2 linked regions of the Homo sapiens genome follow. The protein of the gene in region 2 interacts with the protein of the main gene of each other region in a pairwise test. Each region holds a gene or a part of one and is shown on either strand. Other genes may lie near its edges. The genes, in order: ZMYM5 and MORC3.

Region 1 (3,500 bases), on a different chromosome or scaffold from region 2:
ATAAAAAGGTATTTAGGCAAATACTATGCTACATTGCTACATGCTGGGATTTCAGCAACTGTCTAATTTTAAACATTTAACTAGTCTTCTTGTGGTATCTTATTCATACACAAATTATAACACTAGCAAAATGCTTACATGTAAACTATCTCTAGAGAATGGGAAACAACGTAAATTTAACGGGATATTTAGGTGTAAAGATAAGGGTTAACATAAAACAAAGAAATGAATAAATGTACTTTGACCTATTTAGCTCTTCTTGTAGACTACTTTCAGAGACACTTCACAGTTGAGTATATAAGCACACCTATTTAAAATCAGATATAAAGGTGTACCATGACTCTGAAGGTACTCACAAAAGTAATGAGATCAGAAAAAAGAAGAGTCAACTGAACTACTACCACAAATAGCAAGAGAATTACTGCAGGAACTAGGTACAAAATTACTATCTAAATTGGGCCTGGTGCCTCACACCTATAATCCTAACACTTAGGGAGGCCAAGGCAGGAGGATCACTTGAGGCCAGGAGTTCAAGACCAACTTGGGCAACAAACTGAGAACTCATCTCTACAAAAAAATAAAGGCCAGGTACAGTGGCTCATGCCTATAATCTGAGCACTTTGGGAGGCTGAATAAGATGGGAGGATAGCTTGAGCCCAGGAGTTCAAGACCAGCCTGGGCAATGCAGAGAGACCCCTCTCTACAAAAATTTAAAAAGTCCAACATGGTGGCATACGCCTGTAGTCGCTGCTACTTGGGAGGCTGAGGTGGAAGGATGGCTTGAGCCCAGGGGGTCAAAGTTGCAGTGAGCCATGATCACACCACTGCACTCCAGCCTGGGCAACAGAGCAAGACCCTGTCTCAAAAATAAAAAATAAATATAATAAAATAAAATAATTAGCTGGGCATGGTGGTGCACGCCTGTAATCCCCAGCTACTTGGGAGACTGAGGCAGGAGAATCACTTGAGCCCAGGAGTTCAGGGCTGCAGTGAGCTATGACCACACCACAGCACTAAAGTCTGGGCAACAGAGTTAGACCTGTCTCTAAAAATTAAAAAAAAAAAACAAAAAAACCACAAAGACAAAAAACAAACAGAAAAAACAACTCTGCCTAGAAATCACTAGCCCAGCAGGGATTAAGACAGTAAAGTGGGCCAGGTGCAGTATAATGCCCCTGTAATCCCAGCGCTTTGGGAGGCCTAGGCAGGTGGATCGCTTGAGTCCAGGAGTTCAAGACCAGCCTAGGCAACATGGCGAAACCTTGTCTCTACAAAAAATACAAAAATTAGCCAGGCATAGTGGCACATGGTTGTGGTCCCAGCTACTTGGGAAACTGAGGCAGGCAGCTTGTTTGAGCCTGGGAGATAGAGGCTGCAGTGAGCCGAGATGGGCCACTGCACTCCAGCCTGGGTGACAGACTGAGAGACGCTGTTTCAAAAAAAAAAAAAAAAAAAAAAAGATGGCCGATTGATCACATACAACTAACTTCGTTCCCTTCCAAAACTCCCCTAAACAGGACTACCACAAGGAAAGGAAGAATAAGAAACAAAAGCAATATGATTTTATAAGCCAAAGAACAGATGGATGAATGGTTAACTGCCAACCTGAGATAGCCAGAGTCTAAAACAGTGAATAAAAAGCCAAGAAACATTCTGATTTCCACTGTAGGCTCAGAAATCTGTAGCACCACATATCCCTGGAACAGAATGGGCAGATGCTAAGAAAAGAGGTTGAGAGATATCTTCCCTCCCATCAAGTTGATGGTGACAGGCCTTTCCCCATCCTAGCACAGATTCTAAAAATTTTTTCTTTGATAAGATAGAACATAAGATCTAAGTCTTGGGTTCACCAAGCACTGGGGAATGTTTCAATACCATGAAATATCTCCTCTCCATTGCTTGAACCCAGGAGGCAGAGGTTGCAGTGAGCCGAGATCACGCCACTGCATTCCAGCCTGGGCAACAAGAGCAAAACTCCATCTCAAAAAAAAAAATGTCCCCTCTCCTACTTGATTCCCAGAGAGCTGGCATCCAGACTTCTATTTTCCAGGCAGCAAACTCTTTTCTGGAGGCTTTCTTTCTGAGCAAGACTCTTCCCTGCGGAACTAAGAATCAGCAAAAAAGGAAAGTCCTAAAAATATTAACCTATGGGGTTCCCCATCAATTGGCCAGAAGATCACCCGCAAGCTTCAAGTTGGAAACCCCACTCTCACTCTTCCAATTTGCTTTTTAGTTCCCGTTTTTTGTTTGTTTGTTTGTTTGTTTGTTTTTGAGACGGAGTCTCGCTCTGTCACCCAGGCTGGAGTGCAGTGGCGCGATCTTGGCTCACTGCAAGCTCCACCTCCCAGGTTCACGCCATCCTCCTGCCTCAGCCTCCTGAGTAGCTGGGACTACAGGCACCTGCCACCATGCCCAGCTGATTTTTTTTTTTGTATTTTTTGTAAAGATGGGGTTTCACCGTGTTAGCCAGGATGGTCTCAATCTCCTGACCTCATGATCTGCCCACCTTGGCCTCCCAAAGTGCTGGGATTACAGGTGTGAGCTACTGTGCCCGGCCTTTAGTTCCCAATTCTTAATCATAAATAAAACAGTCAAGAATTATGCAATATATGTAACACCTACTATGTACCCACAAAAATTTTAAATAAAAATTTTTAAAAAACTAATTACACAGGCCGGGTGTGGTAGTGGGTGCCTATCATCCCAGCACTTTGGGAGGCCAAGGCGGGCGGATCACTTAGGTCAGGAGTTCGAGACCAGCCTGGCCAACATGGTCAGTCCCTTGTCTCTACTAAAAATACAACAATTAGCCAACGTGGTGGCATGTACCTATAGTCTCAGCTACTCAGGAGGCTGAGGCACAAGAATCGCTTGAGCCCAGGAGGCAGAGGTTGCAGTGAGCCTAGATCACGCCATTGCACTCCAGCCTGGGTGACAGGGCAAGACTGTCTCAAAAAAAAAAAAAAAAAAAAAAAGAGGAAAAAAAAAGAATTATAGATGGAGTCTCACTCTGTCGCCCAGGCTGGAGTGCAGTGGTGTGATCTTGGCTCACTGCAACCTCCGCCTCCTGGGTTCAAGTGATTCTCCTGGCTCAGCCTCCTGAGTAGTTGGAATGACAGGCACCCACCAGCACACCCGTTTAATTTTTTTTTTTTTTTTTGAGACAGAGTTTTGCTCTTGTTGCCCAGACTGGAGTGCAATGGCACAATCTCGGCTCACCATAACCTCTGCCTCTCAAGTAGCTGGTATTACAGGCATGTGCCACCAGGCCCGGCTAATTTTGTGTGTGTGTGTGTGTATGTGTGTGTGTGTGTGTGTGTGTATTTTTTTTTTTGTAGTGACAGGGTTTCTCCATGTTGGTCAGGCTGGTCTTGAACTCTCGACCTCAGGTGATCTGCCTGCCTTGGCCTCCCAAAGTACTGAGATTCCAGGTGTGAGTCACCATGCCCAGCCCATTTTTGTATTTTTAGTAGAGACGGGGTTTCACCATGTTGACCAGG
Region 2 (2,994 bases):
GCCAACATGGTGAAACCCTGACTCTACTAAAAACACAAAATATTAGCCGGGCTTGGTGACGACACCTGTAGTCTCAGCTTCTCAAGAGGGTGAGGTGGGGGATCACCTGAGCCCAGGAGGTCAAGGCTGCAGTGAGCTGCGATGGCACCACTGCTCTCCAGGGTTCACGCAATTCTCCCACCTCAGCCTCCTGAGTAGCTGGAAGCACAGGCCCACACCACCATGCCCGGTTAATTTTTATTATTATTATTTGTAGCAATGGGGTTTCACTATATTGCCCAGGCTGGTCTCAAACTCCTGGGCTCAATCAAGCATTCTGCCCACCTCAGAGTGCTGGGATTACAGGCATGAACCACCATGCTTAGCCAGAATTATCTAAAACATGTTCTATAAGATATCCATAGTTGTGTAAGAGGTAATAAAAGGTTCTGTGGTCAAATAAGCTTGCAAAACATTGTGTTAAACAATGTTAAAGCAGCTTTTTTTTTACGCCGGGCACAGAGGTTCACGCCTGTAATCCCAGCACTTTGGGAGGCTGAGGCGGGCAGATCGCCTGAGGTCAGGAGTTCAAGACCAGCCTGATCAACATGGTGAAACCCCGTCTCTCCCTAAAAATACAAAATGTAGCTGGGCGTGGTGGCGCACACCTATAGTCCCAGCTACTGGTGAGGCTGAGGCAGGAGAATTGCTTGAACCTGGGAGGCAGAGGTTGCAGTGAGCCGAGATTATGCAACTGTACTCCAGCCTGGGCATCAGATCAAGACTCTGTCTCCAAAAAAATAATAATAATAATAATTGTAGGACTGCTCTGATCCTATTACATGCTTAAGTTACCGTGCATTTACAGAGAACAATGGTTTGCTGAAAACACTGGGAAACCATAGATTAAGATAATTATGCCTTCCAAGTTTATGAATATCAACATTCTAGACTTTTTAAAAAATGCCCAAAAGTATTTAAGCAATAAACACCTAAACTGTAAGGCAGCTTTTGCTTCAAATATTATGGCAAACACATAAAATGAGTGTTACAGTTGTTCTTGTTCCCTACCCCACTACAATATAATAAGTCCATATTTAATTTAGATACTGATTTTTCTCGAGTGGAAATCTATGAAGGGATCAAGATGTTCTTCCTTAGTCTGATAATGCGGAGAATGTGATTTTGAGCATGTTTTTTTGTGAGCTTTTATGGTAAGAGTCCACTAGACCTTTGATAATACTTTAATCGTTCCCATACCAGCTTTTTTTTTTTTTGAGACGGAGTTTTGCTCTTGTTGCCAAGGCCACAGCGTGATGGCGCGATCTTGGCTCACTGCAACCTCCTTCTCCCAGGTTCAAGCGATTCTCCTGCCTCAGCCTCCCAAGTAGCTGGGGTTACAGGTGTGCACCACCATGCCAAGCTAATTTTGTATTTTTAGTAGAGACGGGGTTTCACCATGTTGGTCAGGCTGGTCTCGAACTCCTGACCTCAAGTGATCCACCCATCTTGGCCTCCCAAAGTGCTGGGATTACAAGCATGAGGCACCACGCTTGGTTTTAAGACAGAGTCTTGCTCTGTCACCCAGGCTGGAGTGCAGTGGCGCAATCTCGGCTCACTGCAACCTCCACCTCCTAGGTTCAAGCGATTCTCCTGCCTGAGCCTCCCGAGTAGCTGGGACTACAGGCGCCTGCCACCACGCCCGGCTAATTTTTGTACTTTTAGTAGAGACAGGGTTTCACCATGTTGGCCAGGCTGGTCTTGAACTCCTGACCTCAGGTGATCCGCCCAACTCAGCCTCCCAAAGTGCTAGAATTATAGGTGTGAGCCACCACGCCTGGCCTATCTACTTGTTTTAATAGGACTTCTTCCTAATATCATCTGTACTATGGCAATTTTTAATAATTTTGCAATTTCCTAAAAGATTAGAGTGAGCATACAGTGAAATAAGGACAGCAAGCCATAAAGACATGGTACCAAGTACGACAATAAAAGAAAAACAGGTTGAAGGAGTGAGTTTCAGTAAAAGTCTCCTGTCTTCTACTCATGGCCAAATTCCCCCTATTCTTCAATATCTTGTCCATTTTTATTTTCCTTCAAAAAGCATTCTAAAACCACTCTGACCAATCAAATGCTTTATCCCTTCTAAATTCCTATTCCACTTAAATAGAACCTAAAGGGTCAGAAACTGGAAAGGAAGGATAATGAAGTGTCACTTCTTTTTTATCTATCATAACACCAGGGTCACAGCAGACCATCAATAACTTCTTTTGACAGAACAGTATCTATTTGATGGGTGCTAGCAGATAAAAATAAATAGTATCCTAACCATAATTGCAGCCCCACAAAAACGCCTCATTTAATATTACCTTTCTCCATCCATATGATTTACAGACTCCTCAATGTTACTTGATGTTGAAACATCTGTTGCCGTCTGTTGATTTGTAGATTTTAACTGTTCTACTTCAGTTTTGAGTTCTTCACACTGTGAACGGATTTGTGACTTTTCCATTTCCAGCAATTCAACCTAACAAAAATATAAATGAGCTTTATAACTGTAAAACTTAAAAATACTAATGGCAAAGTGAAATTTCAAGCTAATATAGAGAACCTGCTTGATAACATTATCAACTATCAAAAAACAAATACACAAAGAAAAACCAGTAGTTTTCTATAAACAAGGCTTCATTCGTTTACAGCTTCACTTCTACATCTTTTTACACTGAGAGAATACAACATATTACCACTTGATTTAAAAAAAAAAGTGGTACCTAGAAAATGAAAAACCAGCCGGGCATGGTGGCTCACGCCTATAATCCCAGCACTTTGGGAGGCTGAGGTGGGCAGATCACCTGAGATCAGGAGTTTAAGACCAGCCTGACCAAAATGGAGAAACCCCATCTCTACAAAAAATACAAAATTAGCTGGGTGTGATGGCAGCCGCCTGTAATCTCAGCTACTCGGGAGGCTGAGGCAGGAGAACTGCTTGAACCCAGGAGGTGGAGGTTGCGGTGA

The links.
Region 1: the proteins of MORC3 (region 2) and ZMYM5 interact in a two-hybrid assay, tested with the Homo sapiens proteins (one large-scale study listed by BioGRID and IntAct).

The regions. Positions count from the first base shown.
Region 1 is NC_000013.11:19,857,150-19,860,649, forward strand, and holds part of ZMYM5 (zinc finger MYM-type protein 5), read right to left. Parts: intron 1-3,500. UniProt on the Homo sapiens protein: Functions as a transcriptional regulator.
Region 2 is NC_000021.9:36,371,886-36,374,879, reverse strand, and holds part of MORC3 (MORC family CW-type zinc finger protein 3), read right to left. Parts: intron 2,507-2,994; coding exon 2,349-2,506; intron 1-2,348.